Linked DNA regions of Homo sapiens: all the other regions are linked to region 2. Evidence: fine-mapped expression QTL. A gene starts in region 2. Each other region holds a variant in brackets. All regions are shown on one strand. Distances are between the middles of the regions. Region 1 overlaps PIP5K1A (phosphatidylinositol-4-phosphate 5-kinase type 1 alpha). Region 2 holds the start of PSMD4 (proteasome 26S subunit ubiquitin receptor, non-ATPase 4). Region 3 has its middle 6.1 kb from the start of ZNF687-AS1. Region 4 overlaps TNFAIP8L2-SCNM1 (TNFAIP8L2-SCNM1 readthrough).

Region 1 (6,205 bases), 28 kb after region 2:
TAAATTTAAGTTAACTCAAATTTAAAACTTCATTTTCTCAGTCTTACTACTTACAGTTCAAGTGTGGCTACTAGCTACCATATTGGATAGCACAGATACAGCACATTTCAATCACTGCAGAAACTTTGATTAGATAGCTTTGCTCCATTTGCCTCATCCCCAACCTCGGCCAGGCATTACTTATATTTCTACTTGGTCCTCAATGGGCAATAAATTACAACTAGTTTTTTGTTTTTTTTTTCTTGAGACGGAGTCTCGCTCTGTCGCCCAGGCTGGAGTGCAGTGGCGTGATCTTGGCTCACTGCAAGCTCCGCCTCCCTGGTTGACACCATTCTCCTGCCTCAGCCTCCTGAGTAGCTGGGACTACAGGCGCAAGCCACCACACCCGACTAATTTTTTGTATTTTTTTTTTAGTAGAGATGGGGTTTCACCGTGTTAGCCAGGATGATCTCGATCTCCTGACCTCGTTATCCACCTGCCTCGGCCTCCCAAAGTGCTGGGATTACAGGCATGAGCCACCATGCCCAGCCTACAACTAGTTTTTTTCATGTACAAATAGGTCAAAGGAAAATAAATTATTAGTTTCTTTTTTTTTTTAAGTACCTGCCTCCCCAGTTATAATAGAAACTCATCTTTTTATCTTAATGTTCAACATATAAAAAGAGCTAAATGGCCGGGTGCTGTGGCTCATGCCTGTAATCCCAGCACTTTGGGAGGCCGAGACAGGCAGATTACCTGAGGTCAGGAGTTCAAGACCAGCCTGACCAACATGGAGAAACCCTATCTCTACTAAAAATACAAAATTATCCAGGCATGGTGGTGCATGCCTGTAATCCCAGCTACTTGGGAGACTGAGGCAGGAGAATCGCTTGAACCCGCAAGGCAGAGGTTTTGGTGAGTGGAGATCACGCCATTGCACTCCAGCCTGGGCAACAAGAGTAAAACTCCCTCAGGAAAAAAAAAAAAAAAAAGCTAAATAAGCCAGGTGTGGTGGCTGAGGCCTGTAGTCCCAGTTACTTTGGAGGCTGAGGTAGGAGGATGGCTTGAGCCCAGGAGTTCAAGGCTGCAGTGTGCCATCAACGCACCCACTGCATTCCAGTCTGGGCAACAGAGCAAGATCCTATTTCTTTCTTTCCTGTTTTTTTTTTTTTTTTTTTTTTTTTTGAGACGGGGTCTCGCTCTGTTGCCCAGGCTGGAGTGCAATGGCGCGACCTCGGCTCACTGCAACCTTCGCCTCCCAGGTTCAAGCTATTCTCATGTCTCAGCCTCCTGAGTAGCTGGGATTACAGATGCCCACCACCGCGCCCAGCTAATTTTTGTATTTTTAGTAGAGATGGGGCTTTGCCATGTTGGTCAGGTTGGTCTCCGACTCCTGACCTCAGGTGATCCACCCGCCTCAGCTTCCCAAATGCAAGATCCCATTTCTTAAAAAAAAAAAATTTAAAAATGAAGAGCTCAGTAAAAGTAATTGACATGAGCCACAGAGTCCATTCTGGGGACTGTCAGGTCCTTGACTGAGAATGAGTCAGTCCACCTCTGCTACTTGGGACAATGAAATAGAGAATGAACACAAAATTTACATAGGCCAGAAACCTAGAACTCCAAGAAATCTTCACATCCCATATTAGACAAACCACAGATGCTAAATGGGAGACTGAACACTGTCCCTCAGGAAGCCTAAACCATCTGAAAACCAGTCCAGAACTCAAGAATTTGGATCCCTCAAGGATCCAGGATGCTTCTGTTTTCCCTTCACCAGCCCAATTTCCACTTTTTCACTATTACTGCTCCTTTCCAGTCCATTTGATATTCAGAGCTCAAAAAAGCAGATGTCCTAGGTACTATTCGCCAGCTAAATGACTGTCTTTGTGGAGGAAAAGGGGGTGAGACACGGTCAATCACCCCTGTAACTCCAGCACTTTGGAAGGTTTAGGTAGGAGGAATGCTTGAGGGCAGGAGTTTGAGACCAGCCTGTGCGACACAGCGAGATCATGTCATAAAACTAATTTATTATTATCCATGTGTGGTGGTGTGCACCTGTAGTCCCAGCTACTCAGGAGGTTGAGGCAGGAAGATCACTTGAGCCCAGGAGTCGGAGGTTACAATAGCCTCCTGCTACCGGCCAATGATCATGCCACTGCAATCCAGCCTGGGTGACAGATTGACACCCTGGCTCTAAAAAAAAAATGGAAGAGAAAAAAAAGTCTGACCTATTGTGTATATTTGTATCAACAGGCTGGGCTGGGACCTGGCCCTCTATTGATATATACCCAGCAATGGACAAAAAGACAGAAAGACTGCGAGAGACATGGTTCCCTGTGGTAAGATAAGAATGGCTTTCATGGCCTTGTTACATATTTATACCTAACAGGGAAACCCAGTTTCTTCAGCTCAGTAAAATAGCAACCAATGCCAGATTTGTTCACTAATTTTTTTTTCTTTTGAGATGGAGTCTTGTTCTGTCACCAAGGCTAGTGCCACCAAGTGGCACAATTTGACCTCACTGCAACCTCCACCTCTCAGGTTCAAGCGATTCTCGTGCCTCAACATCCCGAGTAGCTGGGACCACAAGCGTGTGCCACCCAGCTAATTTTTGTATTTTTAGTAGAGACAGAGTTTCATCATGTTGGCCAGGTTGGTCTTGAACTCCTGGCCTAAAATGATCTGCCTGCCTCGGCTTCCCAAAGTGCTGGGATTACAGGCCTGGGGCACTGTGCCCAGCCAAAAAAAATCTCATTTAAACATTCATATACAAAAAGGAGACAATTTACCCTTTGAGAAATAAATCTAAAGTCTAAGCTGTATTATGTGCAAAAGCTTAGGAGATCAAGAAACAGGACAGTACATGGAGAGTAATTTCAAGGAGACTGAGTTCCCAGAGTAAGCTGCTGAGCTCCTGGAGTAAGATGAGACGGTTTCATCCAGACACACCTTTTTATATGTTGTCTCTCCTGAGGAATCAACACTTCTATGGCCTATTTTCTTGATGGGCATGCCAGAGGCATAAGGCACCTAGAAGAAGAGTCAAGATTATAATACAATTCCCATGTAAGACACCAAATAGCTACCACAATGGTACATCAAAACAAAATAAACTGAAACAACATATTCTTTCTAGATTAAAAACATTTTACAAAATCTTCAGATCTATCCCATGCAAATATACAGCTATAATGTTGGTTCCCAATGAATTAAGTGGCTAAAAGATCACAGAAGAAAACTCCAAGGGACACATATTTTCCCTTTGGTCCTCAGAAAGAAGACACAGAAAATAAAAGTGAGTATTTTTACTC[T/C]TTATTTTTTTGAAACAGAGTCTCGCTCTTGTTGCCCAGGCTGGAGTGCGGTGGCACAATCTCAGCTCACTGCAACCTCCACCTCCTCGGTTCAAGCAATTCTCTCGCCTCAGCCTCCCGAGCAGCTGGGATTATAGGTGCACACCACCACACCTGACTAATTTTTGTATTTTTAGTAGAGATGAGGTTTCACCATGTTGGCCAGGCTGATCTCAAATTGCTGACCTCAAGTGATCCACCTGCCTCAGCCTCCCAAAGTGCTGGGATTACAGGTGTGAGCCACCATGCCCGGCCAGAAAATAAGAGTACTTTTTTTTTTTTTTTTGAGACAGAGTTTCGCTTGTGTCGCCTGGGCTGGAGTGCAATGCCACGATCTCGGCTCACTGCAACCTCCACCTCCCGGGTTCAAGCGATTCTCCAGCCTCAGCCTCCCGAGTAGCTGAGATTACAGGAATGCACCACCACACCCAGCTAATTTTTTGTATTATTAGTAGAGATGGGGTTTCAACATGTTGACCAGGCTAGTCTCGAACTCCTGACCTCAGGTGATCCACTCGCCTTGGCCTCCCAAAGTGCTGGGATTATAGGTGTGAGGCACTGCACCCAACCAAAGGTGAGTATTTTTAAACAGTAGTAGAAACACAGCTCGGCGATGGCCGGGTGCGGTGGCTCACACCTGTAATACTAGCACTTTGGGAGGTGGAGGCAAGTGGATCACGAGGTCAGGAGTTCAAGACCAGCCTGGCCAAGATGTTGAAACCCTGTCTCTACTAAAAACACAAAAATTACCCAGGCGTGGTAGTAGGCACCTGTAATCCCAGCTACTCGGGAGGCTGAGGCAGAGAATTGCTTGAAACTGGGAGGTGGAGGTTGCAGTGAGCCGAGATCGCACCACTGCACTCCAGCCTGGGTGACAGAGCAAGACTCTGTCTCAAAAAAAAAAAAAAAGAAAAGAAACATAGCTGGGTGGTGTGGCATGCACCTGTAATCTCAGCTACTCAGAAGGCCAAGTGGGGAAGATCACTTGAGCCTAGGAGTTTGAGACCAGACTGGGCAACATGGCAAATCTCCATCTCCAACTAAAAATACAAAAAATTTGCCTGGCGTGGTGGCGTGCATCTCTAATCCCAGCTACTCAGGAGGCTGAGGCGGGAGAATCACTTGAATCCAGGAGGCAGAGGTTGCAGTGAGCCAAGATCATGCCACTGCACTCCAGCCTGGGCGACAGAGCGTGACTCTGTCTCAAAAAAAAAAAGAAAAAAGAAAAGAGGCCAGGCGCAGTGGCTCACACCTGTAATCCCAGCACATTGGGAGGCCAAGGCGGGTGGATCACCTGAGGTCAGGAGTTCAAAACCAGTCTGGTCAACAGGGTGAAACCCTGCCTCTACTAAAAATACAAAAATTAGGCGGGCATGGTGGCGTGCACCTGTAATCCCAGCTGCTTGGGAGGCTGAGGCAGGAGAACTGCCTGAACCTGGGAGGCAGAGGACATAGTGAGCCAAGATCGAGCCACTGTACTCCATACTGGGCAACAGAGCAAGACTTCATCTCAAAAAAAAAAAAGGCAAGAAGGGAGGAGTAAACCAGTATAGCAGTCTAGAAAGTTATCCCCAAGAGCCAAAATGCCAGAGCAACAGACATGAAGTTACTCTTCATAACATCAATACTCATTAAGTTTATAAGCCAGAAGGCTGAGAGACTAGTGGAAACAGGGTATCACAGTTTTTTTTTGAGACAGGGTGTCTCTGTCACCCAGGCTAGAGGGCAGTGGTGTGATAATGGCTCACTGCAGCCTCAACCTCCTGGGCTCAAGCAATCCCGAGTAGCTGGGACTATGGTGTGCACCTGGCTAATGTTTTATTTTTTTGTAGAACCAGGGTCTCACTATGTTGCACAGGCCTGTCTCGATCTCCTGGCCTCAAGCAATCCTCTCACCTTGGCCTCCCAAAGTGTTAGGATTACAAGCATGAGCAACCGTGACTGGCTGGATGTCCCAATCTTAAGACCTGATATTCAAGTTCTATTCTTTTAGCCAAGGCCCTTAGTACCAGAAAACTCTCAGTATATCACCTGACAGATGCTGGAAGATGTTCTGAGAGAAAGTTTGAAGTCCCAGGTCAAAAGGGCCTGCATTCTGAGGCCCCTTTCACAAAACCCAGGGGAGAGGCAAGAAGTGAGAAGAGGGTTAGGAAATACACCATGGGAAGAAAGTTGAGCAAAATGGCGATATTCTGGACAAAAAAGAGAAACTTGTGAAACTAACAGCTTCTGCATGGCTAAAAGTTCTTCATATTCATCGAAGGTATGCAATCAGGAGGCCATAACAGCAAAACAAAGAAAGTGAGCTTTAGTGTCAGACTGCCTGGGTTTGAATTTGAATCCCAGCTTTACTAATCCCACTTAGTAACTATGCAATCCTCACTTTCTTCATCTGTAAAACAGATAACAGTATTTGCCTCACTGTAGTTGTTTGAAGGATTAAATAAGAATATCTTAAAGGGCACTTAGGTACAGTATTTACTTTTTGGTATATATTGCATTTGGTACATTAAAAATGCTCAATAAATGTGAGATATTGTTAATATTTAAAATAAACTACAATAAAAGATGAGTTGCATAATTTCTAGCCTACCAATGAGATGTAAGAATCCTGTCTAGCTTCCAAGACCTAAGTAGAGAAAAAATAAAAATGTCATAAACAGGTTCCTTCTATCCCAGAATTAAGGTTTTAGTAACCATTGTATCAGTATGAAACTCACCTCAGATGCCATGGGTCTCTTGATTCCAGATGCTGCTAGGGGGGAAAAAAAAACAATCATAAGAGTGTATCACACACTCACATCTCTGTCAAGCATACTGAAACCATCAGAGTTTGAGTCAAACTAAACATAAGTATAAACTCCTGCCTCTTG
Region 2 (5,000 bases):
CAATTTACAGATTCAATGCTACTCCTATCAAACTACCAAAAACATTCTTCAAAGAACTAGAAAAAACTATTTGAAAATTCATATGGAACCAACAAAGAGCCAGAAAAGCCAAGGCAATCCTAAGCTAAAAGAACAAAGCTGGAGGCAACTTTACCCAACTTCAAACTATTACTTAGGGCTACAATAACCAAAACCGCATGGCACTGGTACAAAAACAGGCACAGAGACCAATGGGACAGAATAGAGAGTCTAGAAATAAAGCCGCACACCTATGACCATCTATTCTTTGACAAAGCTGACAAAACAAGCAGTGAGGAAAAAGAGTCCCTATTCAATAACTGGGGATACTGGCTAGGCTAGCCATATGCAGAAGATTGAAGCTGGACTCCTTTCTTATACCATACACAAAAATTAACTGAAGATGGATTAAAGACAAGGTAAAACCCAAAACTATAAAAATCCTGGAAGACCGGCCGGGCACAGTGGCTCACGCCTATAATGCCAGCACTTTGGGAGGCTGAGGCGGGCGGATCACCTGAGGGTGGGAGTTCGAGACCAGCCTGACCAACATGGAGAAACCTGGTCTCTACTAAAAACACAAAATTAGCTGGGCGTGGTGGCGCATGCCTGTAATCCCAGCTACTAAGGAGGCTGAGGCAGGAGAATCGCTTGAACACGGGAGGCGGAGGTTGCGGTGAGCCGAAGGTTGCGGGGAGCTGAGATTGTGTCATTGCACTCCAGCCTGGGCAATAAGAGCGAAAAAAAAAAAAAGTGGGCAAAGGAGCCGGGCACAGTGGCTCAACGCCTGTAATCCCTGCACTTTGGGAGGCTGAGGCGGGTGGATCACCTGAGCTCAGCAGTTTGAGACTAGCCTGGCCAACATGATGAAACCCCGTCTCTACCAAAAATACAAAAAAGCTGGGCGTGGTGGCGGGCACCTGTAATCCCAGTTACTCAGGAGGCTGAGGCAGGAGAATCACTTGAACCAGGGAGGCGGAGGTTGCAGTGAGCTGAGATGGCGCCACTGTACTCCAACCTGGGCAACAAGAGCAAAACTCCTTCTCAAAGAGAAAAAAAAAAAAAAAAGTGGGCAAAGGACATGAACAGACATCAGACACTTTATTTTTATTTATTTATTTATTTATTTATTTATTTTATTATTATTTTTTTTTTTTTGAGAGGGAGTCTCACTCTGTCGCCCAGGCTAGAGTGCAGTGGCGCCATCTCGGCTCACTGCAACCTCCACCTCCGGGGTTCAAACGATTCTCCCACCTCAGCCTCTGGAGTAGCTGGGACTACAGGCGTCCACCACCACGCCTGGCTAATTTTTGTATTTTTAGTAGAGATGGGGTTTCACCATGTTGGCCAGGCTGGTCAGTAACTCCTGACCTCAGGTGATACACCCACTTCAGCCTTCCAAAGTGCTGGGATTACAGGCCTGAGCCACGCCCCAGCCAGACACTTTTCAAAAGACGATATACATACAGCCAACAAGCCTATTAAAAAAACCTCAATATCACTGATCATTAGAGAAATGCAAATAAATCAAAACCACAACGAGATACCACCTAACACCAGTCAGAATGGCTATTACTAAAAACTAAAAAAATAACAGATGCTGGCAAGGTTGCGAGAAAAGAGAACACTGTTCTATCGTTGGTGCAAGTGTAAATTAGTTCAATCACTGGGAATCACTTGAACCAGGGAGGCGGAGGCTGCAGTGAGCCAGACTGGGCCACTGCACTCCAGTCCGGGAGACAGAGCGAGACCGTCTCAAAAAAAAATTATTCATCGTTTATCTGAAACTCAAATTTCACTGGGCATCCTGTATGTTATCTGGCAATGCTATGCTCCCCCGAGAAAATAAAAAGAAGAAATCTCATAGGTGCCTGTTTCACCCAATCGGTGATTTGTGTTCGTCAACTATTCTGTATTACATTCAGTGATTACACTTAGAAGGAACTCTTGAAACCCTGCAAAAATTTATGTCCTCCTCTTCTAATGTGACTCGTAATAGGTACTCAGCCCAAGCCTGAAACTGACAAAGAGAGCTACCTCACCGGATAAAGCCTTTGTGTCAGACAGCCGTGGGTTTAAATCTTGACTCCACCACTTAACTAGCTGTATGATTTTGGACAAATCACTTAAAATCGCTGAGACTCGGTATCCTGAACCGTAAAATGGAGAGATAATTTACCTTAAGGTGTGGTTGTGAGGTATAAGTGAGATAAACAAAATGACTGATACATAAAAAGCAATCTGTAAATGGTACCTTTGAAGATGATACAGGGAAAGGTAATGAAGTTAGAGACGAGGGAATGGGGAGAGGAAGGGATTAATAATCTATTTTCCTAATAGACGTTATTTTGCAAAGAAAGGAGGGCAGAAAACTATTACGATGAGTCCGAAAAGCAGAACTGTAGCTAAAGACAGACCCGGGCTGCTCTAGAGAAGACGGCGCTAGAACAGAGAAAGGAAGCAGGAATGACCAGTCAATGACCGTCCCCCTGGGGGTAACAGTGGTAACCCGGGACTATCCGCCACTCCAGGGCCCCGGGATGACTCAGGGAGTCCAGCGGGCTCCTTACCTCCGGGGCCAGGGCCGCCTCTCGCCCATGAGCCCCTGGCCCCCACCCCAGGCCCTCCCTGCCTTGGCGCTACACGCGCCCGGAACCCAGCTCTGCCCCTCCTGCCCCGAAGTAGCTCCTCACCACACCATAGTGCTTTCCAACACCATCTTGCCACCTTCCTCCCTCCCGACCGGGTCTCCGGGACGGCCTAACAACAACTCCTCCAATTGGCCCGTCGCTCTTCACCAATCACAGACCTCGGCTTGGCCAGCTGCTTCCGCCTCCGTCCCCCACGTTGCGTTCTGGGAGTTGTAGGTGCCGCCAAACAAATTTGTAGGCGTCTTGAGGGTAGTTGAAGGGAATCGCGGTAACACAAAAAACAGGATCTAGCCTCCACTTTCCCTGCCATTGCAGTTCTCAGTTGGGGTTTCCCGCTGGCCGGATCTCAGGGGAGCTATGGAGGAACCTTTGAAAGTGCTGTGTCGATTCCGGCTTCGGCATTTTAAAAAAGTGTCGGGATCGGCCGAGCGCGGTGGCTCACGCCTGTTAGCCCAGCACTTTGGGAGGCCAAGGCGGGCGGATCACGAGGTCAGGAGTTCGAGACCAGCCTGGCCAGCATGGTGAAACCCTGTCTCTACTAAAAATACAAAAAATTAGCCGGGCATGGTGGCGCACGCCTGTAATCCCCGCTACTCGGGAGGCTGAGGCAGGAGAATTACTTGAACCCGGGAGGCAGAGATTGCAGTGAGCCGAGATCGCGCCACTGCACTCCAGCCTGGGGGACAGAGTGAGACTCCGTCTCAAAAAAAGAAAAAAAAAAGTGTCGGGATCGCTAATGACTTTCTACAGCCCTCAGTTCCCTGTAGAATTTTAATTCAACAAGCCCTTATACCCTTCAATTGAATTTATTTGTATATTTATCTCCTCCCTCGTTTAACTAAGGGTGGGCAACGTGCCTTTTTTTTTTTTTTTTTTTTTTTTTTTTTTTTTTTTTTTGAGACGGAGGAGTCTCGCTCTTTCACCCAGGCTAGAGTGCAGTGGCTCGATCTCGGCTCACTGCAACCTCCACCTCCTGGGTTCCAGGGATTCTCCTGCCTCAGCCTCCCAGGTAGCTGGGACTACAGGGGCATTCCACCATGCCCGGCTAATTTTGTATTTTTAGTAGAGACGAGGTTTCACCATGTTGGCCAGGCTGGTCTCGATTTCCTGACCTCAGATGATCCACCCACCTCAGCTTCCCAAAGTGCTGGGATTACAGGCGTGAGCCACCACACCTGGCCGGCAACGTGTCTTAATCTTTACAATTCCCTAAGCCCAGTACAGAGCCCGGAAAAGATTTGACAACTCAATTATATTAACTAATCTGCCAAAGAACAAACCACTAAACCGTTTTGGTTAATCAAAAATTACATTCAAGGCCTGATGCAATGGCTTAGGTTTTATAATCCCAGCGTTTTGGGAGGCCCAGGCAGGAGGATCAACTCAGGCTAGGAGTCTGAGACCAGCCTGGACAACACAGCCAGACTCCGTCTCTACAAAGTTTTATTGTTTGAGACAGGGTGTCGCTCTGTTGCCCAGATTGGAGTGCAGTGGCCTGATCTCGGCTCACTGCAATCTCCACCTCCCGGGTTCAAGCCATCCTCCTGCCTCAGCCTCCTGAGTAGCTGGGGCTATAGGTGCATGCCACCAAGCCCAGCTAATTTGTTTTTAATTTTTTGATGTGGGAGGATGGCTTGAGCGCATGAGTTCGAGACCAGCGTAGGCAACATAGCCAGACCCCATCTCTGAAAAAAAAAAAGTCTCAAAGTGTTGGGATTACAGGCGTGAGCCATCACATCAGCTGGATATTTGATATTAAGCAATTTTTTTAGGCATGATAATAGTGTTAAAGTTATCACCCTTATAAAAGTAGGCTTTATTAAGGGTTATATGTTGTATTCATAGATAAAAAAAGTATATGAAGTTTGGGATTTAACTTAATCCTCTGGAAGAAACAAATAGTTTTGTTTTTTGAGACAGGGTCTCAAAGTAAAACAAAAGAGACAAGGTCTCACTGGGCTGGAGTGCAGCAGTGGTGCAATCATACATAGCTCACTGCAACCTCTAACTCCTGGCCTCCCATCTCAGCCTCCGAAAACTGGGATTACAGGCTTGAGCCACTGCACCCGGCCACGCTGGTCTTATTTATGTTGATAATTATTGAGGCTGGGTTATGTGTACATAGTGGTTCACCATACTACTCTACTTTTGGTTTGGAAATTCCCATAATGAAAAAAAGAAGGCCAGCTGGGCACGGTGGCTCACGCCTGTAATCCCAGCACTGAGAGGCCGAGGTGGGCAGATCACTTGAGGTTGGGAGTCCGAGACCAGCCTGGATACCCCCGTCGCTACAAAAAAATACAAAAATTAGCTGATTGTGATGGTGCCAGC
Region 3 (6,205 bases), 21 kb before region 2:
GGGAGGCCAAAGCGGGAGGATCAACAAAAAATTTGAAAAATTAGCCGCGTACAGTGGCGCACACCTGTAGTCCCAACTACTCAAGTGGCTGAAGCAGGAGAGTCCCTTGAGCCCAGAAGTTTGAGGCTGCAGTGAGCTACGATCCTGCTGCCGCACTCCAGCCTGGGCAACAAAGTGAGACCCTGTCTCTTAATAATAATGTTTCCATATTGGTTCATCAATTGTAACAAATGTACCACACTAATGCGAGATATTAATAAATAATAGAGTAACCTGAGCAACATGGAGAGACCCCATCTCTACAAAAAAACTTTTTTTTAAGTAGCGTGGCATGGTGGTGCACACCTGTGGTCCCAGCTACTTGGGAGGCTGAGGAGGGAGAATCACCTGAGCCCTGGAGGTCAAGGTTGCAGTGAGCTGTAATCACACCACTACACCCCAGCCTGGGCAAAAGACCAAGACCTTGTCTCAAAATAATAATAATAATAGGGGAAACTGGAGAGAGAGGATGTGTGGGAACTCGCATTTTGTGCTCAATTTTTCTGTAAACCTAAAAATGCTGTAAAAAATAAAGTGTATTAATTTAAAAACAAAAACAATTTAAAAAAAAAAACAAAGCAGGCGGCTGGGCGCAGTGGCTCATGCCTGTAATCCCAGCACTTTGGGAGGCCGAGGCGGGTGGACCATGAGGTCAGGAGATCAAGACCATTCTGGCTAACATGGTGAAACCCTGTCTCTACTAAAAATACAAAAAATTAGCTGGTCATGGTGGCACACGCCTATAGTCCCAGCTACTTGGGAGGCTGAGGCAGGAGAATCGCTTGAACCCGGGAGGCAGAAGTTGCATTGAGCCGAGATCGCACCACCACACTCCAGCCTGGGTGACAGAGCAAGACTCTGTCTCAAAAAAACAAAAACAAAAGCAAGGAAAGATGACAGTAAGTGTGGGAGGGTTGCAATTTTAGGTAGGGTGGACAGTAAAGGCCTTTTCGAGAAGATGGTGGTTAAGTAAAGGTCTGAAAGAGATGAGGGAGTGAGCCATGCAGCTATCTGGGACAAGAACATTCCAGGAGGAAAGAACAAGTACAAGGTCCTCAGGAGGGGAGTGTGTTCCAGAGGGGGTGGGAGGAGTGAATTGGGTCATGGGATGCTTTGGAAGCTATGGGAAGGTCTTTGGCATTTTCTCACGGTGGGTTAGAAAGCCATCAAAAGGAGACAGATGACATGGTGGCCTGACTTAAACGTTTTAAAAGGGTTGAAAGTGGGGTGTGGAAGAAAGAAAAAGACTCCAAAGCATGGAGGCTGAGGAAGTAGAAGCATGATGTTGCCCCATTTCTTGAGCTGAGAAGACTACAGGAGATGCAGGTTTTAGGGGTTAGGTCGGTAGCTCAGTTTTAGTCATGTTGAGGTATTACACATCCAAGTGGAGATACAAATGTAGGTGTCATCAGCTTATAGATAGTATTTAAAACCCAGGTCAGAATGGATGAGATCACCAAGGGAGGATTGAGGCATGGGAAACTCCGAAGTTAAAAGGTCAAGGAGATGAGAAGAACAGCAAAGAGGAAGGAAGGAACCAGGAGAGTGTTGTAACCTTCAAGCTAAATTTAAAAAGTATCTCAAGAAAGAGGAAGAGAGAATGATAGTCAGATGCCACTAAAATATCAAATAGGATGAAACCTGAGAATTGACCAATGGATTAAGGCAAAATGGAGGTCACTGGTGATCATGATGAGGAGAGAGTTGATGGACTGGTGGGGACAAAAGCCTTCATGGAATGGGTTTACAAGAATGGAGGAGGAAAAAAGAAAAGTCACTATAAAACTCTTTCAAAGGAAGGAAGGAGAAAAAAGATGGTAACTAGAGGAAAAAGAGTGACCAAGAGGACTATTTCTTTTAATGGTTACATTTTTTTCTCATCAGGTTCTACTGACCCAAGGAAAGGACTGTTTGAAGATGAAGAAGTTGTATGTCAGTACACGGGTGGGGAGGATCCTGTAGACAGGAAAAACCGAAGTTGTAGCAGAGCGATAGGGAAAGTTTCTGGAGTCATGTTCTTCAGAAGGTGAGCGAGAGGGTCAAGTTCACAAACAGAGGAATTGCCTTACACAGGGGCAGGGACAGTTCCCGAATAATAATTGGGAGAGAAGGCAGAGTGAGCGGGCATGGGTCGAGGGAGCTGGGGAGCTGTGGGATATCTCTTTGTTGCTTCTGTTGTCCAGTGGTATAAGAAACAAGAACATGTGTTGTCAAACTCTTCGTGGGAATAAAAAATCAAGATCACTCTCTAAGAGTGAGGATGAAGAAGAAACTAGGAATTTGAGGAGCAAAAAGATAGGAAATAGGCATTCAGGAGAGAGGAATGGACTAGGAGGGGAGATCAAGAGACTGAGAGGCCAGTGGCCTGGAAGATTCATTTACCTGGATATTTAAATCAGCAGGAATGGGCCGGGTGCAGTGGCTCACTCCTGTAATCCCAGCATTTTGGGAGGCCAAGGCTGGTGGATCACCTGAGATCAGGAGTTCAAGACCAGCCTGACCAACATGGAGAAATTCTGTCTCTACTAAAAATACCAAAATTAGCCAGGCTTAGTGGTGCATGCCTGTAATCCCAGCTACTCGGGAGGCTGAGGTAGGAGAATCGCTTGAACCCGGGAGGCAGAGGTTGTGGTGAGCCAAGATTGTGCCATTGCACTGCAGCCTGGGCAACAAGAGTGACACTCCGATTCAAAAAAAAAAAAAAAAAAGAAAAAATTCTTGAACTTCACATAGAGAGTAGGATTCTATTTATGTATATATATACTATAAATATATAGTATGATTCCATTTATATAAAGTTCAAGCTGGGCGTGGTGGCTCACACCTGTAATCCCAGCACTTTGGGAGGCTGAGACAGGTGGATCACGAGGTCAGAAGTTCAAGACCAGCCTGGCCAAGATCCTGAAACAAAACAAAAATTAGCCAGGCGTGGTGGCACGCACCTGTAATCTCAGCTACTTGGGAGGCTGAGGCAGGAGAATCGCTTGAATCCAGGTGGCAGAAGTTGCAGTGAGCCGAGATCATGCCACTGCACTCCAGCCTGGGCGACAGAGCAAGACTCTGTCTCAAAAAAATAAAATAAAATAAAAATAAATAATAAATAAAGTTCAAGAGCAGGCAAAGTAAATCAATGGTGATAGTAGCAGAATTGTGGTAACCATTGCCTAGGAAAGAGTAAGAGGAATGTGTGTGTGTGCATATATATATATATATATATATATATATAGATAGATAGATAGATAGATATATGCACACACACTCACACACACTTTTTTTTTTTTTTTCTAAACAAGGTCTTGCTCTGTCACCCAGGCTGGAGTACAGTGGTGCAATCACGGCTCACTGC[A/G]GCCTCAACTTCCTGGGCTCAAGCGATCCACCCACCTCAGCCTCCCAAGTAGCTGGGGCTACAGATGTGAGCCACTGCGCCTGGCTAGTAGGAGGAATCTTTGGAGATGCACACACAGACACACATACCCCCAGATTAATGGCGCGGCACCTTCTGTTAATAGCACCCACCACCTCTCCTTGTTGCAGCCATCTTCTGCCTCACCCCACTCTGTCCTATACTACTCCTATCCTCATTCTTGATTATTATTATAATTTTTTTTTGAGACTGAGTCTCGCTCTGTCACCCAGGCTGGAGTGCAATGGCACAGTCTCAGCTCACTGCAACCTCCACCTCTCAGGTTCAAGCGATTCTCCTGCCTCAGCCTCCCGAGTAGCTGGGATTACAGGTGCCCACTACCACACCCGGCTAATTTTTTATGTGTGTTTTTAGTAGAGACGGAGTTTACCATACTGGCCAGGCTGGTCTCGAACTCCTGACCTCGTGATCTGCCTACCTCGGCCACCCAAAGTGCCGGGATTACAGGCGTGAGCCACCATGCCTGGCTTTTTTTTTTTGAGAGAGGGTCTCACTCTGCTACCCAGGCTGGAGCGCAGTGGTACAATCTCGGCTTACTGCAGCCTTGAGCTCCTGGGCTCATGTGATCCTCCCACTTCAGCCTCCCGAATAGCTGGGACTACAGGCATGCACCACCACGCCCAGCTAATTTTTTTATTATTGGTAGAGATGAGCCACCACATCTACCCTATTTTTATATTTATTTATTTATTTATTTATTTAGCGATGGAGTTTCACTCTTGTTGCCCACGTTGGAGTGCAATGGTGTGATCTCAGCTCAGTGCAACCTCCGCTTCCCAGGTTCAAGCAATTCTCCTGCCTCAGCCTCCCCAGTAGCTGGGATTACAGGCGCCCGCCACCACGCCTGGCTAATTTTTATATGTTTAGTAGAGACAGTTTCACCATGTTGGCCAGGCTGGTCTCAAACTCCTGACCTCAGATGATCTGCCCGCCTCGGCCTCCCAAAGTGTTGGGATTACAGGCATGAGCCACCGCACGCGGCCTGTTGCTCTTCTTTCACCCTCCCTTCCCTTCCTGCCTCTGGCTTCTCCAGAGTTGGGATGGTGCGAGGAAGGAAAGGAGTCAAGTTTTACATGACAGGGGCTGTCAGAGCCCTCTGTGTGACAGGTTCCTAAATGCTCGCTTTCTCTTGGGTGGAGCATATTTGAAGGTCCCTGGGAGACTTACAGGACCTCTCCACTGCCCTTTTCTCTGGCATCTGCAGTGCACTCTCCAGGTGACCTCTTGCACAGTGCCCTGCACTTTTGCCCCATGGCATCTTACCATTGGGCTCTTCTTGCCCTTCAGGAACTCCTTTTGGGCAGGCTCTATCTGGATGGCTCAAGCTTGGGTACTTTCCATGCTTTCCTCTTGGTCCGTGGGAAACTCCCACATTCTTAGCATGCCAGGTGCTGAAATAAAGTCTACCCACTAGTGCCACCATTCCAGGTCTGGGCTCCAGCCAACCTCCCACATGTCCCATTCAGCAGACATTGGTCTCTATGTTCATTTATATCTCCCAAATACCAGTAAATTCATGTCAGGCTCTTCCAGAACTCTCTCTCAGTGACTTGCTTGTGGTCTTTGACAACACTGGGTCAGGAGTTCTGCCACCCAGGAAACATCCAGCCAAGGACTCAGATGCCCATCTGTTTCTTACAGGCACTCCCAGTCTCTTGGTACTGTCCTACCTTGGTCTGCGTCCTCCCCTCGCCCCTAAAGAACAAGAAACAGGGAATACCAAAGGACTCCAGAGAGATCAGCAATCAACAACAGATCTATCTCCATGAGCGTGCTCTCTTTCCTGTGTCAAATGTGTCATCTCATAGAGGCTGCAGGTGGCAGTGGGGGCCATGGGAGCTGGAGGAATTGTGCTGTCTTTTGCGTGGCTGGAAAAGTATTTTTCTACAATGTGGGGGTACCTGTGTACACTTCTGTCCTTAAGACTCAGCTCAAACTCCAACACAACCAGGAAAACCTTTCAACATCTTGTTACACACAGCCACCTTTAATTTTTTTCTTTTTTTTTTTTAAACTTTTATTATCATTCAAATGATTTGGGCAATTTCATCATATACTACATCCTTTCCAAGGCATGTAACCTGATCATGAAATAGAAAATTAATGCTTCAATAACAATAATTTATACAGAAAATTTTCCTGAAAATAACATGTAGACTATTTTCCTTGGCCTTTGTATTCAAACAAAGATGAAAGAACTAAGCTGTTAAAAAGCTAAGCTGGGCTGGGCGCAGTGGCTCACGTCTGTAATCCTAGCACTTTGGGAGGCCAAGGCGGGCGGATCACGAGGTCAGGAGATGGAGATCATCCTGGCTAACACAGTGAAACCCTGTCTCTACTAAAAATACAAAAAATTAGCCAGGCGTGGTGGCGGCCACCTGTAGTCCCAGCTACTCGGGAGGCTGAGGCAGGAGAATGGCATTGTGTCCGGAATTGGTGGGTTCTTGGTCTCACTGACTTCAAGAATGAAGCCGCAGACCTTCGCGGTGAGTGTTACAGTTCTTAAAGTCAGCGTGTCCAGAGTTTGTTCCTTCTGATGTTCGGATGTGTTTGGAGTTTCTTCCTTCTGGTGGGTTCGTGGTCTTGGGGGCTCAGGAGTGAGGCCACGGACCTTCGCGGTGAGTGTTACAGCTCTTAAGGCGGCGCATCTGGAGTTGTTCGTTCCTCCCGGTGGGTTCGTGGTCTCGCTGGCTTCAGGAGTGAAGCTGCAGACCTTCGTGGTGAGTGTTACACCTCATAAAG
Region 4 (5,000 bases), 84 kb after region 2:
TCACGAGGTCAGGAGATCGAGAACATCCTGGCTAACACGGTGAAACCCCGTCACTACTAAAAATACAAAAAATTAGCTGGGTGTGGTGGTGGGCGCCTGTAGTCCCAGCTACTCGGGAGGCTGAGGCAGGAGAATGGTGTGAACCCAGGAGGCCGAGCTTGCAGTGAGCCAAGATAGTGCCACTGCACTCCAGCCTGGGCAACAGAGCGAGACTCCGTCTCAAAAAACAAAAAACAAAAACAAAAACAACAACAAAAAAAATTAGCCAGGCATGGCAGCATGCACCTGTAATCCCAGTTACTTGGGAGGCTGAGGCAGAAGAATTGCTTGAACCCGGGAGGTGGAGGTGGCAGTGAGCCAAGATCGCACCACTGCACTCCAGCCTGGGGGACAGAGTGAGACTCCGTCTCGGGGGGAAAAAAAGTGGAACCATTCTGGCTGAAAGAGGAGAGTCTCTACAGACTCCTTTATCCTCTAGTGGCTCATAAGGGACCTTCCCTTAGCCCTTTCTCAATGTTTTAGAAACTACTGCCTTAAGAAGTTTATGGAAAGGACCCCTGGGGCTGAAAGAGGGTGGGAAACTTCTTTGGCAAAGTGTAAGTGGTCAGGCTTTACAAATGCAACAGATTCAGAAATAGGTAGGAGGGAGGCTTGGAACAGGTTCCTTCTCATTCCCTGTGACTCCTCTTCTTACCCTCTCCAGCAATTCTGGACATGTACACACTGATGAGTAACAAGCAATACTATGATGCCCTCTGCAGTGGAGAAATCTGCAACACTGAAGGCATTAGCAGTGAGTGTGTTTGGGGAGCATGGTCCCCAGGGCTCTGGGCAGGCAGTCCTAGTGTCTGGGAGAAGGTAGAAAAGGGTGAAATTGATGATTCTGGGAGAGGACATGCTGCATGAGTGATAAGAAAACCTGTGGAGTGCCAGGTGAGGTGGCTCATGCCTGTAATCCCAGCATTTAGGGAGGCCGAGGCAGGTGGATCACCTGAGGTCAGGAGTTCAAGACCAGCCTGGCCAACATAGTGAAACCTTGTCTCTACTAAAACTACAAAAATTAGCTGGTTGCATGCCTGTAATCCCAGATATTATACTTGGGAAGCAGAGGCACAAGAATTTCTTGAACCCGGGAGGTCAAGGCTGCTGTGAGTTGAGATTGTGCCACTGCATTCCAGCCTAGGTGGATAGAGCGAGACTCCATCTCAAAAAAAAAAAAAAAGAAAAGAAAAGAAAACCAATGGGGAGGAGATTATGGGGAACATGTTGGGGTTCCCTTCCTGCCCTCATTCACCAGGTGTGGTACAGCCTGACAAGTATAAGCCAGTGCCGGATGAACCCCCAAATCCCACAAACATTGAGGAGATACTAAAGAGGGTCCGAAGCAATGACAAGGAGCTGGAGGAGGTGAACTTGAATAATATACAGGTATTTGACTTGCATCCTCCAAACCATAACACCGGATAACCACTGACATCCGAGAGTCCCTTAGCCCACCATCTCCTATTCCCCTCCGATAGGACATCCCAATACCCATGCTAAGTGAGCTGTGTGAGGCAATGAAGGCAAATACCTATGTGCGGAGCTTCAGTCTGGTAGCCACGAGGAGTGGTGACCCCATTGCCAATGTAAGGCTAGTTGACATCCCCAGCCCTCTCCCCACATCTTACATGCACCTGTTGCATGGCTGTCATAAAGGGTTTTGCTAGGGAGTGCTATTCTCATCATGCCTTCTTAGGGCAGCCCTCATGGAGACTCCTACCTTCAGTGCTATGGCTCATAACTCTCTACTCTCTCTAACACCCCTAGTCCCACTGCACATTCATCTCCCTGCTTTCCCCTGCTATCCGCCCTGCTTTCTGTATCCCTCTAGCTCCATTTACAGCACCTGAAAGACTCTTCTCAAAGAGCTGTGTTTCCCTCTTGCTCCTGTTCTTTCTTTCCTCAGTCATCTGTGAAACTGTTCCCTAATCCTAACCCAAGTCCCTACTACCCAGGCAGTGGCTGACATGTTGCGTGAGAATCGTAGCCTCCAGAGCCTAAACATCGAATCCAACTTCATTAGCAGCACAGGACTCATGGCTGTGCTGAAGGCAGTTCGGGAAAATGCCACACTCACTGAGCTCCGTGTAGACAATCAGGTCAGCATTCCCTTCCCCTGATGTTAGCATTCAGTCTCATTGAGTCTCCTCCCTGAGCCAGCCAGTGGGGCAGCTATCTTACTTAATCTTGCTTGAATTCTCCTCTTCATTGTCTCTGTGAGGGAAGCCAAGTCAGCATCTCTCTTCACCCACTGTGGAGAAACAAGCTTCT[T/C]TGACCTCCCAAAGGGGTCTGTGATGTGGGATGGTAAACAGCCCAGAGAGGGTGACTGTCAGCTTTTGCCTCTCCCTCCCCCAGCGCCAGTGGCCTGGTGATGCAGTGGAGATGGAGATGGCCACCGTGCTAGAGCAGTGTCCCTCTATTGTCCGCTTTGGCTACCACTTTACACAGCAGGGGCCACGAGCTCGGGCAGCCCAGGCCATGACCCGAAACAATGAACTACGTGAGTAACTGCAGACATGATGTGTGGAGTGGTCAGGGAAGTGCAGAAATTGGTGGATCCTCCTGAAAGCAGACCTAATGACTAACAGCCCAGGGTGCTACCAAAGAGCTATTCATATGAGAATTTCAAATCCCAAGAGTGATCAGAAAGTAAACAGAAAACTCCCCCTGCCCCAAATATGGACCAGTAGAGAGGTAGAAAGGATGCCAGAGATAATCATACTTGTTTAGAGGTATCGTAATTTTATTTGTGGTGTGGTTTCTTGTTTTGTTTTGTTAATGTGGGATGGGCCTGTAAGGTGGCCTAAGACACTACCAATTTATGAGTTTGGCTAAGGGACTGGAAAGGAGAAGAGTGCCTTTGCAGAAAGCAGGAGCTGGAACAAACACTTATGTTTAATATTGCTCCTTTACAGGTCGCCAGCAAAAGAAGAGATAACACTGCATTTCCCTTTACCAACTAGCGCTGGGAGCACTGGACACTTAAATCCTCATCTGTCCTCCTTTCCTGTAAATAAAAGCCCTTCTATCCATTTTGCCTGCCTCCTTCCTTGGGCTTTGGGGTGAGAATCTTGGCGCTAACCCCCAAGGGTTACTGCCAGTTCACCAGGGGATTATTTATACTCTGGGGATCAGCAGGCAGGGAGGTTCAGGTTACTAGGAGGAGGTGGGGGTGTTCCCTCCCTTGGTGTTCCCCATAACCCTGCCAATGCCTTTTGACTCTTCTACTTTCACAGGGAACTTAGCCACAGCCCTGTTTCCAGATGTGGCCAGGTCCCCCTAGTGCCTACCTGCAGTCCTTATGTGATTTGAAGGGGGAAAGGACTTTGAGTGGTAGTGGAGAAGCAGGCAGACAACATGAAGGGCAAAGACCTCTTTTTGACAGTCTTATTAATAGGGCACCAGGCTGATGCAGCTGACGCTTGGCATGGCTTTGGTAGGAGGTGGGGGAGGGGTTAGAAGTATGGATAGCCGTGGCTGGGTGCGGTGGCTCATGCCTGTAATCCCAGCACTTTGGGAGGCCGAGGTGGGCGGATCACGAGGTCAGGAGATCGAGACCATCCTGGCTAACACAGTGAAACCCCGTCTCTACTAAAAATACAAAAAATTAGCTGGGCATGGTGGCGGGCGCCTGTAGTCCCAGCTACTCAGGAGGCTGAGGCAGGAGAAAGGCGTGAACCTGGGAGGCAGAGCTTGCAGTGAGCCGAGATCGTGCCACTGCACTCCAGCCTGGGCGATAGAGCGAGACTCTGCCTCAAAAAAAAAAAAAAAAAAAAAAGGAGTGTGGAGAGCTGTGTACCTTGCAGGCAAGGAGTAGTTGGAATGAGAATGAACAGATCTGAAATCCTGAGATCCAACAAGGAACCAGACTTAAGGAAAGTTAAGTTCTCAGCACCCATTGTAATTTATTTGTGAATGAATGGGAAAAGGGTATCAGTCCAAGGGGAGATCAGGTGGTTCCTCCTCATCAGAGTCAAACTCAACATTTTCATCTTTTACCCATCGACCTCGTCCATCTGGGATCCATCCAGAGCTGGAAACATCAGAGAAAATAGCATCGATCAGGAAAGAGGCTTATTAAGAAGTTAGTGGTGAGCTCACACCAGTAATCCCAGCACTCTGGGAGGCCGAGGCAGGTGGATCACTTGAGGTCAGGAGTTCGAGACCAGCCTGACCAACATAGTGAAACCCTGTCTCTACCAAAAAAAAAAAAAAAAAAAAAAAAAAAGTTAGCAGTGAGAAAAAATTGAGAGCCATGTAAGTTGGGTGGCTAAAACAAAACGAAACCAAAGATGGAAAACAACAATGGGAGTCCGGGTGCGGTGGCTCACACCTGTAATCCCAACACTTTAGGAAACTGAGGCAGGTGGATCACCTGAGGTCAGGAGTTCGAGGCCAGCCTGACCAACATGGAGAAACCCCGTCTCTACTAAAAATACAAAATTAGCCGGGCGTGATGGCACATGCCTGTAATCCCAGCTACTCGGGAGCCTGAGGCAGGAGAATCGCTTGAACCCAGGAGGTGGAGGTTACAGTGAGCCGAGAGCGTGCCATTGCACTCCAGCTGGGGCAACAAGAGTGAAACTCCATCTCAAAAAAAAAAAAAGGAAAAACAATAGCTTTGAAACAAGGGTGTCAGAGAGAAAAGAAAATCTGAGGAAACTGATTAGGCATACTCACCTTCGAAGGGTGAGATAATGGTCCAGGGCTCGTCTTCTTGTGGGGCTCATGGGTGCAGGGGCTGAGACAGTTGCTGACTCCTCGGCCTGTGGGCCAGCCGCAGGTTCAGGTTCCCTACTGATCTTCCCACTTTGGAGTTTGACCTCTGAGGGTGGCATAGGGGAAAGGGAGACAGAGGGACCAGGGGCTTCTGGTCTAGGTAGAGAAGAATAGTCTGTAAAAGCAGTAAGGGAAAGGGCCAACTCTCCTATGACTCCCAACCTCTTAAAACAGTGCTT

What was found.
Region 1: its variant is fine-mapped to the expression of PSMD4 in whole blood (TOPMed, PIP above 0.99).
Region 3: its variant is fine-mapped to the expression of PSMD4 in whole blood (TOPMed, PIP 0.97).
Region 4: its variant is fine-mapped to the expression of PSMD4 in whole blood (INTERVAL, PIP 0.96).

What each region holds. Positions count from the first base shown.
Region 1 is chr1:151,224,127-151,230,331 of GRCh38, reverse strand. It overlaps PIP5K1A (phosphatidylinositol-4-phosphate 5-kinase type 1 alpha), which reads right to left. Exons shown (of 16, transcript NM_001135638.2): 2 at 6,053-6,087; 3 at 5,926-5,961; 4 at 2,932-3,012. Among named protein-coding and RNA genes, the nearest start is that of PSMD4, 28 kb to the left of the region's middle. The variant T/C (reference allele first, on the strand shown) is at 3,294.
Region 2 is chr1:151,252,520-151,257,519 of GRCh38, reverse strand. PSMD4 (proteasome 26S subunit ubiquitin receptor, non-ATPase 4) reads right to left here and starts at 2,786. Exons shown (of 10, transcript NM_002810.4): 1 at 2,712-2,786. The coding sequence starts at 2,737. RefSeq lists a silencer at 2,525-2,664 and an enhancer at 2,705-2,894.
Region 3 is chr1:151,272,758-151,278,962 of GRCh38, reverse strand. No RefSeq gene overlaps it. Among named protein-coding and RNA genes, the nearest start is that of ZNF687-AS1, 6.1 kb to the left of the region's middle. The variant A/G (reference allele first, on the strand shown) is at 3,386.
Region 4 is chr1:151,168,061-151,173,060 of GRCh38, reverse strand. It overlaps TNFAIP8L2-SCNM1 (TNFAIP8L2-SCNM1 readthrough), which reads right to left. Exons shown (of 7, transcript NR_144937.2): 6 at 4,723-4,912; 7 at 2,765-4,075. It overlaps SCNM1 (sodium channel modifier 1), which reads right to left. Exons shown (of 7, transcript NM_024041.4): 6 at 4,723-4,917; 7 at 2,765-4,075. The coding sequence ends at 3,976. TMOD4 (tropomodulin 4) reads left to right here. Exons shown (of 10, transcript NM_013353.3): 5 at 704-793; 6 at 1,298-1,428; 7 at 1,521-1,628; 8 at 1,998-2,141; 9 at 2,398-2,542; 10 at 2,958-3,074. The coding sequence ends at 2,980. Among named protein-coding and RNA genes, the nearest start is that of SCNM1, 4.4 kb to the right of the region's middle. The variant T/C (reference allele first, on the strand shown) is at 2,314.